Homo sapiens: one gene and its partners. The protein of the gene in region 1 purifies or fractionates together with the protein of each later gene. This does not show direct contact. Each region holds a gene or a part of one and is shown in the gene's direction. Other genes may lie near its edges.

Region 1 (3,652 bases):
CTAGCACATTCTGATTGCGGTGCTCCATGCTGCATTTTCTGTGGCACTCCCACTCACTAACTCACTGAGGTGGGCTAAATATGATCCCTTGTACAGATGGGACCCCAGGAGTTTGAAGTGATGAACCCTAAGCCACATATGTAAATCAGTGATTGAACTGATGAGCACTTTCTGAACCTGATTTTTCTGGTTGTTTAGCTTATTCCCACCTACCTTTCAAAATGCTCTCAGCGTGAGTGTAAGTTGCATTCAGCGGTTCAAGATGGTTTCATTTAAAGAATGAAGTTGTAGAAAGAGGAGAAATGGATGGGTGCATACAATTTGTGGATTGCACATGTGTTTTGATATTGTACATACTGCTAATGTGCCATAAGTGTTATCTGGGCAAAATCATACCTACTAGCCTAAAGGACAGTTGTGCTGTGGCTTATATGTATTTGCCATGAAGCCTGCATGGAGCCCTACATTTCATGCAGGGATAAAGGAAAGTGATTTTATATGAAAGTGATCTTATGTATAAAGCTACAAAGAATAGTAGCTTTAGAATAAGAAGCTGCAAAGATATTTTTCTATATCATATACTCTTTTTCTACCCAAGCAGTGGCTGCCACCTGTATGGTTGGGGGCCATGTTAACCAACTGCTGCTTTCCCCCACAGAACCATCACAGCACTAGGAATATCACAGATGCATAATAAATGTTGAGGCTTGGAGGCATGGAGATTAAGAAAACCGTTGAAAGCCAAACCTGACAACACAACATAGGAGCTGCTAATTTGAGGTTCTACCCATTCAAAAGCAAATACTTACAAAGTATGTTCAGGTACTTAGGGCTCCATAAAACTTTACATTTGTGTATCACATAGACAGTCAGTCAACCTCTGCCTTGGAGGAACCACCTACTTGTTGCAGATTATTCACTATTTTTATTTTTTCCCCCATGTATATTAACTTCTGGGTTCTGGCCTTCAATGGATAAACAAACAAACAAACCCTAGACTTAGGGCCAGGGAAACTGTCCCTGTTCATTTTATTTCTTACACAGCCAAATAAACTTCTTCCCTGAGGCTGAGAATGTTAAAACATGTGATAATAGAGACAGTCACTCCACATATTGCCGTTCTTTTTGAAGATGCTATAAAATTCTAAAATCTTCTCTGTGGATCTGTCATTCAAGAAAGCCTTAACTGGGGATTCAAATTATACCTCTGTGTTAAACATCTGTTCCTTTAGTTATTTTCCACAATAGTGCCTTTTTAAATAATTATTTGATGCTCTAAATATACTGTTAAATATTATGCAAGCATTTTAGATTTTGTTTGGGGGACATAAAGAGGATTGAAATGATTTTAATAGCTGTAATTATGGATCCCAATGACCAACTCTATGACGAAGGCAACTTGCAGAGCAGAGGCCCAGCCCTGGGGACAATGGGCCTTCCATGCTTCATGCTCTCCCCGTTCTCTCTCACCACCAGCTGGGAACTAAATTCCACTATTGTCCTGAACTGGCTTGTCTATTCTTGCCCTGACTTGATACTGTCACAGCTTGATTTAAATAGGGGTGTCTCTGTGTGTGTGTGTGTGTGTGTGTGTGTGTGTATGTGTGTGTGTGTGGCTGGAATTTCTATTGTAAATGCAGAACAGACACAGAAAACCAACTGGGAAACAGCATTATGTAAATGCTGTTTCTGCAGGTGTAAGGGATTTTAAAAACGTTTTAGAAAACTGCATGGATTTAAATTTATTTTGCCTTCTGCTTTCATGCAAGATACCTGGGAGACAGTGAGAACAGACAATGCAGTGTCACCTTGCATCCTTACATGTGATGTCCTGGCTACAATCCTGCCCGTTGTCCTTGGTATATGAATAACACTTCATCTCAGTAAGAAATCATGCATAATACTTCTGGCTCATTTGCTAGGGAGGGCTGGACTACTAACCACTCCAGCTTGAGGGTCCCTTCTCTTTACATCTCTCTCTTCTTACATTACTACAGCCTGGGGTACTTGGCCCACTTCTGAGATTAAGCAGAGATGGAAATAAAACTTTCCCTTTCCTGACTGATCTCATTATAGCCACAGCTCATTAGAGTTTCTCTAAGGAAAACTAAAGGGAAGCAAATGAGAATGTCCCCTTAATAAACACTGATCAAACTGTGTTGCAAAAGCATAAAACCTGATGAACTTAACAAAGCTTCGGTGTTTTACTGCTTGTATAGAAATTTGTGGTTTACCAAACATATTCATATTTTTGTAAAGCCCAGTTTCAGGGTTTTATTTTTGTTCATTCTATTCTATTTTGTTTTGTTTTATTTTAATAATGCAGTTTCCTAGGCATAGAAGTTCCTACTACCACCATTACTGTGTTTGAGGAAGCCCTGATTTGGATCTTTAGGTTGGCACTTGGCTTCCTCAGCTCTTTAGTTCTTGGATTGTAGGAGAGAGGCTTGGTGCCTAGCACTATGCCTGCCACCCAAGAGGAGCTCCCTGTTTGTTTCAGGAACGGTGTACATAAATAAATTAATGGCTTTTTAAGTGACCCTTCCTCGGTTGTTCCTCCTAGAAGATCCTGCCTTTGCTGTGACCTTTAATTTTTCTTTCCTGTTCTGGGAGTCTGTATCATGTGCACCTGCTGAATGCAGGATGGGGTTAAAACCTGCAATGGGAAGTGTCTGGATCATTGGGGATTGGAGTGCCAGTCATTTTGGGCCTGCAGGTGACCCACTGAAGATCCAGTCACTTCTCAGCTCATGTTCTTAAGGCCATCTTCTGTTGGCTTTCTCCATGGGAGTTCTTTTCTAGAATCATTTCAATAATATTACAACTATCTATAACAAGTGTTCCATAAATTGTTGCCTTAAATAAAGAATAGGGTCATTGTGTTCTATTAATTGCAGAAATGCTTGCTGAAAGCACATGCAATGTCTTTCCTCTTTAAGGGGCTGGCCATCCATTTGATTTATATAACATATAGACATAGCTCAAATTATTTCCAAACCCCCATAATTTTTTTGTTTTTTCCTAGTGTTGAAATTTAGATTAAAATAGAAAAATTAGTAGGAGAGACAAGCTTATTGCTTACAGCAGATCAAGCAATTATATTGAACCAATATTTGAATCTCCTCTGGCAAATTCTTATGTACTTTTCTGTTGTCCTTCTTGTCTTTTACCTCCTGGTCCTTTGACTCCCAATTGCAGGTTTGTGTGCAGCTTGGTGTATTATGGCCTAACTCTGAGTGCGGGTGATCTAGGTGGAAGTATTTATGCCAACCTGGCCCTGTCTGGCCTCATAGAGATTCCATCTTACCCTCTCTGTATCTACTTGATTAACCAAAAATGGTGAGTAAGTGTGGATGAATATGAAGTGCACCGTAGAGAATGCACACATACACATATGCCCTCTGATACACATGCATATCTATATGGTGTTGTCTTTGTATGCAGTATCAGCTGATTGCTCTGTGGTGATTAGAGTTTCTTTCCATCTAAAAACAGTTAGAATTCATTTCTTAGTGCAGGATTTCTTGAGTTTCATGTTTACGAGTTTTTATATAGATTTCAATTCAATATTGAATATCGAAATCCAAGATAGTATTGAATATTACCATCAGAGGGTTTATGAGTAGTCTGTATGTAATTTGTTAGTCTCCAG
Region 2 (3,559 bases), on another chromosome or scaffold:
GCTTCAGAATTTTGCTGTGAACAGTCCTCTTGGACACAGGTTGGGGTGCCCTTGTTTGGGTTTGTTTTGGTGGAAAACATCACAAACCTGGCACACCATTTGAATATCCCTAATATCATTCCAGTCGCTTTCCTCATCAGTTGCCTTTCTATTTCAGTTCATTCACAGATCTCACTTCTGAATGTGCCACTTCCAGTAGACATGCTGGTCAAAGAGCAGTCATCATTGGGGTGAAGTGTTCTTGACAGTTTAATATGATTCACTTTTCTCCAAAGACATGTAAAAGGCTGTTACGAAAGCTTGGCTTCTGTCATGGAGACGGAAATGGGCAAGCTTCCTTCCGTAGCCTCTTGTTAATCCTTAAACATTAAATATTTCGGGGGTAATAGAGCCACTGGTGAGTAAAAACCTATATAAAAACCAAAATTATAGGATTTTTTCTTTTTTAGTAAAAACCGGTATCAAAACCAAAATTATAGGATTTTTTTCTTTTTTAGTAAAAACCTATATAAAAACCAAAATTATAGGATTTTTTCTTTTTTAGTAAAAACCTATATGAAAACCAAAATTATAGGATTTTTTTCTTTTTTAGTAAAAACCTGTATAAAAACCAAAATTATAGGATTTTTTTTTCTTCTTTTTTAGAGAGAGAGATTAGAAAACGACATTAGGAATTTCACTTTAAAATGCGCATTACAAACTTCTTAGGTGTTCCAGGAATTATCAAGTGACTTTAAAATGACTTTTCCAACCTGCTTTGTTTTTAAAAATTATATTCCAGTTTTAATCATTGTAAAAAAAGCACCTGGAGTTTCAAAACATGTGAATACTACCAAGTTTCTGTCCCCAAAGTCAGGCATCACTGTTAGTCTTTTGGGACAGATGGGACAGATGTTCACTTTAATGTTTTACTTGAAGTTTTACTGCTCTTTGCCATGTGGTAAAAAGAGGCTGAGACATATTTAAGAATTCCAAGAGGATATTATGTGTCAGAATTTCAGACACTGATGAGAAGTTTTTAATTGTTCTTTTTTATTTGATTTTGGAATTCAGGTGCACTCTATTCAAGTGCAAGGATATCAGAAGTTTTTTTTTATTTAAAAAATTTTTTTTTCGAGATGGAGTTTCACTCTGTTGCCCAGGCTGGAGTGCAATGGCAGCTTACTGCAACCTCCACCTCCTGGTTCAAGCGATTCTCCTGCCTCAGCCTCCCAAGTAGCTGGGATTACAGGCACGCGCCACCACACCTGGCTAATTCTATTTAGTAGAAATGGAGTCTCACCATGTTGGTCAGGCTGGTCTCGAACTCCTGACCTCAGGTGATCCACCCACCTTGGCCTCCCAGCGTGCTGGGATTATAGGCATGAGCCACCAGGCCGGCCCCAGGATTTTATATTAAGCCTTCTTGCTCTCAAAAAAAAAAAAAGGTTTTAACTATTCCATTTCCAGATGAATCCCATGAGCGCTGCTTACTGTTGAATACCAAGGTCTAGGGCTCTGCTTCCTGTAGACACGCACACGTTGTCTCCATCCAATGGCCTTTTCTGAAGTTACAGAAAACACCAACATGGGAGGGAGTTTATGAAGCAAAGGCAAAGGCAACACGTCGGCTAGCTTCAGGGTAGCACCGTGAGAAATGGGCTGTATTGATACTGTGAATGTTTGTTTTCCAAGCTGTTTTATACAGGTTTGTTTTTTCATGGTGTAGGGTATTTATGACAAAGTAAATGTTGTGAAGGTTAAAGATAAATTAAGATTATCCACCAAATGCTAAAAATACTGATGTGTAAATCACCTTTATCGCCTCACCTCTTCTACAAGCTTTTGTGGCTTGAGGGCTTTTGTTTTTGGCTTTTGTCTGGATGAAAGTTTTGCCCAGTTGTGTTTTAAAAACAATTCCTCATGAACACTAAGATTAATTGTGTCTGTATCTCTGGAACTGGGTGCTCATGTTGGTTTTAATGAGCTTGCAACCCTTCCCCGTTTGCTTTGTTTAAGGAGGTGCCTCTGTTCTTTGTGGAGGAGTGAAATGGAGCTTTAAGTGTGTGTGTGTGTTATGTGTGTTTGCACACACGCGTGTGTTATTGTAGCAATAACAAAAAGTAGCCATCTCCTTGTTCCAGCTGAAAACCTGCTGTGAGAGTTTTGACAGAGCACTTTATTTTCGTCAAGTTTCAAGTCTGAGTTCAAAACCAGCCCTGATCCCTTATGACCAACTGCTACTCGACCAGTCGCCACTCAGTGGCCACCTGGTGCCCGTTTAGATTTTTGCTTGGGTTTTACTGGCCACCTCTATAGACGAGAGTTGCAAAGTTGCTTTGAGCAGAGAGGGAAAGATTAATTTACACTGCTGGCCACCGAAGGCAGGTGTTTCCTGGGTAGTAATCTCACGGCTCTTGATCTGGAAACTTCAGAGTACAAATTGGTGGATGGTGGAAGGCAGGACACGTATCTCTGTCTGACGGAAAACAGACCTCGGGGCTGGCGTAAACCCTGCTGCCAGGCCCTCTCCCCACTGCCCCAAACCGGCCTAGACACGAAGACCAAAGCAGCCTGCACAGGGCAAGGCCCCCGCGGAATCCTGCAGAGCAAACTCAGGTTAACTTGGGTCCATGACCGTTTGCATTCGAAACACAATACACTGCCTCGTTCTCTCAGTTAGCAGCTGGGCAGCAGCGCACCATTCATCATTTAGGCTTGTGGTTTGTTGTTTACTCTACCAATGTTATGTCGAAACTGCATTGTAAAAAGAGAAGAAAGTGGCAGGTTTTCCAGGTCCACGGAAAGGTTTGGCCTGACGCTGGAGTGCGGTGATGAACTTACGTGACAATGATTGTATTCCTCAGTAGCACTTTAAACGCCGAAGACAGCCCTGCAGCAAGCCTGCACACGGGCTTGGGTGGGTTCCTTTGGAGAAGATGTGGCTGGAACACAAACAATCTTTGAAAGAAATAAATGTGCACACAGAACACTACACTGAGTTGTTTTTCCCGAGTCCTGTTCTGTCCTGGAAGTCCCAGGGTCTTCTCTGAGCGCCCCTTTCATCAGGTCATCCTTGGACTTCACTGTCCATTCCCCACCCCGGTGGGTGGCCCGGGTGCATGCAGAGGGGACAGGTACCTGGCTCAGCCACAGGTGGAACAGCGTCGGCACTTGCCTGGGGCTCACGGTGGTTCTGGGAGGGAGGCGGTCGAGTCGGGTCACAGACGTGTCCTGCGGGCCCCATGCAGGCATCGTGCCTTCTTTCTAGTCATCAGTTCCCGTGGTCTCCCTCAGTCTTCATTCCCCCTGCGGTGCCCAGACAGCAGAGCACGTGGAGAGCTGGTGTCCTGGAGAAAGCTACTGGACAGGCCCAGCCTCCTGTCCCCACACTGCCCACCCCTCCTCTCAGCTGTCCCGCCCGCTCGCTAGACACCGTGTAGACCCTTAGAGGGAGCCCGATGCTTCCCAGCTGGGTTCCAGGTTTTCTGCTCCATTTCCTGGGCACCACAAGGTGGTGATGGCAGTGCCTCTTGTTTGGAGTTAGAAGTGGTTCAGGACCCAGTGATTGAACTGTTGC
Region 3 (3,652 bases), on another chromosome or scaffold:
ATAGCTCACTGTAGCTTTCAGTTCCTGAGCTCAAGCAATCCTCCTGCCTCAGCCTCCCAAGTAGCAGCAAACAGATACCTTCATAATTAGCAACTACTTACTCTCTTAATCATCTCCATTCTCCGCTTGCATGAATCTCCCTCTCCTTTCCCAAGCCCCTCCCATCCAAGGCCAAGAACAGACCGTAATAATGATCATAAAGCAAATGTCGGCTGGGCACAGTGGCTCACACCTGTAATCCTAACACTTTGGGAGGCTGAGGCAGGAGGATCACTTGAGCCCAGGAGTTTGAGACCAGCATAGCCAATGTAGTGAGACCCCCTTTTCTACAGAAAATAAAAAATTAGCCAGGCATGGTGGCAGGTGCCTGTAGTCAATGCTACTAAGGAGGCTGAGGCGGGAGGATCACGTGAGCTCACGAGATCGAGGCTGCAGTGAGCTATGATTACACCACTGGACTCCAGCCTGGGCAACAGAGTGAGACTCTGTGTCTCTAAAAAGGAAAAAAAAAAACAGCAAGTGCCATGGGGGCTGGGTCCTTAATGCCAAGAACAATGCTCCTTCCTCAGTGTGCTTGGTGTTGGATGGCCAGCCCCCAGGGCACTTTTGCTCACTGTAGCTCAGATTCTTGCATAGGAAACACACCAGGCCAGGCACGGTGGCTCACGCCTGTAGGGTCCAGCCCCACAGGGTCGGTGGGTTTTTCTCCCTGTGTGCGGAGACGAGAGATTGTAGAAATAAAGACACAAGACAAAGAGATGAAAGAAAAGACAGCTGGGCCCGGGGGACCACTACCACCAAGAGGCGGAGACCGGTAGAGGCCCCGAATGTCTGGCTGCACTGTTATTTACTGGATACAAAGCAAAAGGGGCAGGGTAAAGAGTGTGAGTCATCTCCAATGATAGGTAAGGTCACGTGGGTCATGCGTCCACTGGACAGGGGGCCCTTCCCTGCCTGGCAGCCGAGGCAGAGGCAGAGAGAGGGAGAGAGAGAGAAAGACAGCTTATGCCATTATTTCTGCATATCAGAGACTTTTAGTACTTTCACTAATTTTGCTACTGTTATCTAGAAGGCAGAGCCAGGTGTACAGGATGGAACATGAAGGCGGACTAGGAGCATGACCACTGAAGCACAGCATCACAGGGAGACGGTTAGGCCTCCGGATAACTGTGGGCAAGCCTGACTGATGTCAGGCCCTCCACAAGAGGTGGAGGAGTAGAGTCTTCTCTAAACTCCCCGGGGGAAAGGGAGACTCCCTTTCCCGGTCCACTAAGTAGCAGGTGTTTTTCCTTGACACTAAGGCTACCGCTAGACTAGACTTCCCAGACGCTGGCGTCACCGCTAGACCAAGGAACCCTCTGGTGGCCCTGTCCGGGCATAACAGAAGGCTCGCACTCTTGTCTTCTGGTCACTACTCACTGTGTCCCCTCAGCTCCTATCTCTCTATGGCCCGGTTTTTTCTAGGTTATGATTACAGAGCGAGGATTATTATAATACTGGAATAAAGAGTAATTGCTACAAACTGATGACTAATGATATTCATATATAATCATGTCTATGATCTAGATCTAGTATAACTCTTGTTGTTTTATATATTTTATTATACTGGAATGGCTCGTGCCCTCGGTCTCTTGCCTCGGCACCTGGGTAGCTTGCCACCCACACACGCCTGTAATCCCAGCACTTTGGGAGGCTGAGGTGGGTGGATCACTTGAGGTCACGAGTTCGAGACCAGTCTGGCCAACATGGCAAAACCCCATCTCTACTAAAAATACAAAAAAAAAAAAAATTGTTTGGGCTCAGTGGCATGCGCCTGTAATCCCAGACTCAGGAGGCTGAGGCATAAGAACCACTTGAACGTGGGAGGCAGAGGTTACAGTGAGCGAAGATTGCGCCACTGCATTCCAGCCTAGGCGACAGAGTAAGACTCTATAAAAAAAGGAAGGAAGGAAGGAAGGGAGGAACGGAGGAAGGGGGAAAAGCAGAAAGAAACACACCAGACAGGGTGTAGTGGCTCAAACATGTTGGAGAAGCATTTCTGTTCATAGAACCATGCCAAGCAGGGCGGCGGGCAGCAGGTGAAGCTCTGCAGTGTCTGACGTAGCTGTAGTGTCCACACAGAGGCATCTACTTCCTGCCAGCATGGAGGGTTTTGTGGATCAGGAAGTGGGTGCCAGCCAGAGGTCTTCTCTTGACTGAATGCAGGCTGGGAAGGTGGGAGGAGGGGCCCTGAGTTGGAGGCGACGCTTACTACCCTGCTTTTGCAGATCAGCCAAGGTCACAGAGCTTAGAATGACACTGGAGGTGCTAGGTCCAAGCCCCAGGGCAAGGCAGGCAAAGTGTTACTGAGAAGGACCCCGCATATCCCCGGCTCCTTCCAACTCAGTTCACCCCATTCCAGGTCGGCTCCTGTGGTTTCAACAGCCGCATCCTGCCCCACGTGTACCCCATCCGGCTGGTGAAGGTCAATGAGGACACAATGGAGCTGCTGCGGGATGCCCAGGGCCTCTGCATCCCCTGCCAGGCCGGTGAGCAGGGCCCCCGCATGGTCCCCACCCGGAGCAGGGGTCCCCACGCCCTGCCTGCCTAGCGCAGCCTGAACATGGCCTTCTCCCTAGGGGAGCCTGGCCTCCTTGTGGGTCAGATCAACCAACAGGACCCGCTGCGCCGCTTCGATGGCTATGTCAGCGAGAGCGCCACCAGCAAGAAGATCGCCCACAGCGTCTTCAGCAAGGGCGACAGCGCCTACCTCTCAGGTGCGCAGCCTGCTAGGCCCCGGTGACTGGCTGTGCGGATGGGGATCCTCCACCCATCTGCCCCTCTCCCCTCTGCCAGGTGACGTGCTAGTGATGGATGAGCTGGGCTACATGTACTTCCGGGACCGTAGCGGGGACACCTTCCGCTGGCGAGGGGAGAACGTCTCCACCACCGAGGTGGAGGGCGTGCTGAGCCGCCTGCTGGGCCAGACAGACGTGGCCGTCTATGGGGTGGCTGTTCCAGGCAAGCTGGGGTTGCAGGGGGTGGTCCTGAGGCATGGTCCTGAGGGAGCTCAGCCAAAAGGGGCTTAGAAGTACACATGCCTTTGGGCAGTGCACAACCTGGACAACTGCTCATGGCAGCCCAGGAGGAAGCACTGGATCTGGAGCCAGTTCACCTGGGTGATGTTGAGCCTCAGTTTTGTCATCCAGAAAATGGGATCATGAAAGCCCACCTGTCTTAGGGCTTCAATGAGCCAAGCAGGAGCTCCACAAAATGTGTGGCTGCTTCCATAAATGTCATCCCAGGTTGGGAGAGACTGGAGATTACAGACCAGGGGCTACTGCTTGACAGTGTATCTGGTCCTGCTGGTGGGGAGGATGAGAGGCGGGGTGTCCTCAGCTGAGCCTCTGCCTCCAGGAGTGGAGGGTAAGGCAGGGATGGCGGCCGTCGCAGACCCCCACAGCCTGCTGGACCCCAACGCGATATACCAGGAGCTGCAGAAGGTGCTGGCACCCTATGCCCGGCCCATCTTCCTGCGCCTCCTGCCCCAGGTGGACACCACAGGTGCGAGTCTCCCCCACTCCAATCTCTCTCTTCATCCATCAGTGTGTCTGTTGATTCATGTCTTGGTCCATTTTGTGTTGCTCTAAAAGAATACCTGGCCGGGGCCAGG

Evidence for each region.
Region 2: the proteins of SLC22A15 (region 1) and C2CD2 purify together in Homo sapiens (affinity purification with mass spectrometry; one large-scale study listed by BioGRID and IntAct). This does not show direct contact.
Region 3: the proteins of SLC22A15 (region 1) and SLC27A1 purify together in Homo sapiens (affinity purification with mass spectrometry; one large-scale study listed by BioGRID and IntAct). This does not show direct contact.

What each region holds. Positions count from the first base shown.
Region 1 is NC_000001.11:116,031,989-116,035,640, forward strand, and holds part of SLC22A15 (solute carrier family 22 member 15), read left to right. Parts: exon of another isoform or gene 1-658; coding exon of another isoform or gene 659-659; exon of another isoform or gene 660-1,769; coding exon of another isoform or gene 1,770-1,770; exon of another isoform or gene 1,771-1,866; intron 1,867-3,198; coding exon 3,199-3,339; intron 3,340-3,652. UniProt on the Homo sapiens protein: Organic zwitterion/cation transporter with apparent specificity for amino acids and their derivatives. Has low affinity for its substrates and may regulate their flux across the plasma membrane at high substrate concentrations.
Region 2 is NC_000021.9:41,884,527-41,888,085, reverse strand, and holds the end of C2CD2 (C2 domain-containing protein 2), read left to right. Parts: 3' UTR 1-2,974; downstream 2,975-3,559.
Region 3 is NC_000019.10:17,497,877-17,501,528, forward strand, and holds part of SLC27A1 (long-chain fatty acid transport protein 1), read left to right. Parts: intron 1-2,401; coding exon 2,402-2,528; intron 2,529-2,618; coding exon 2,619-2,756; intron 2,757-2,835; coding exon 2,836-3,000; intron 3,001-3,396; coding exon 3,397-3,543; intron 3,544-3,652. UniProt on the Homo sapiens protein: Mediates the import of long-chain fatty acids (LCFA) into the cell by facilitating their transport at the plasma membrane.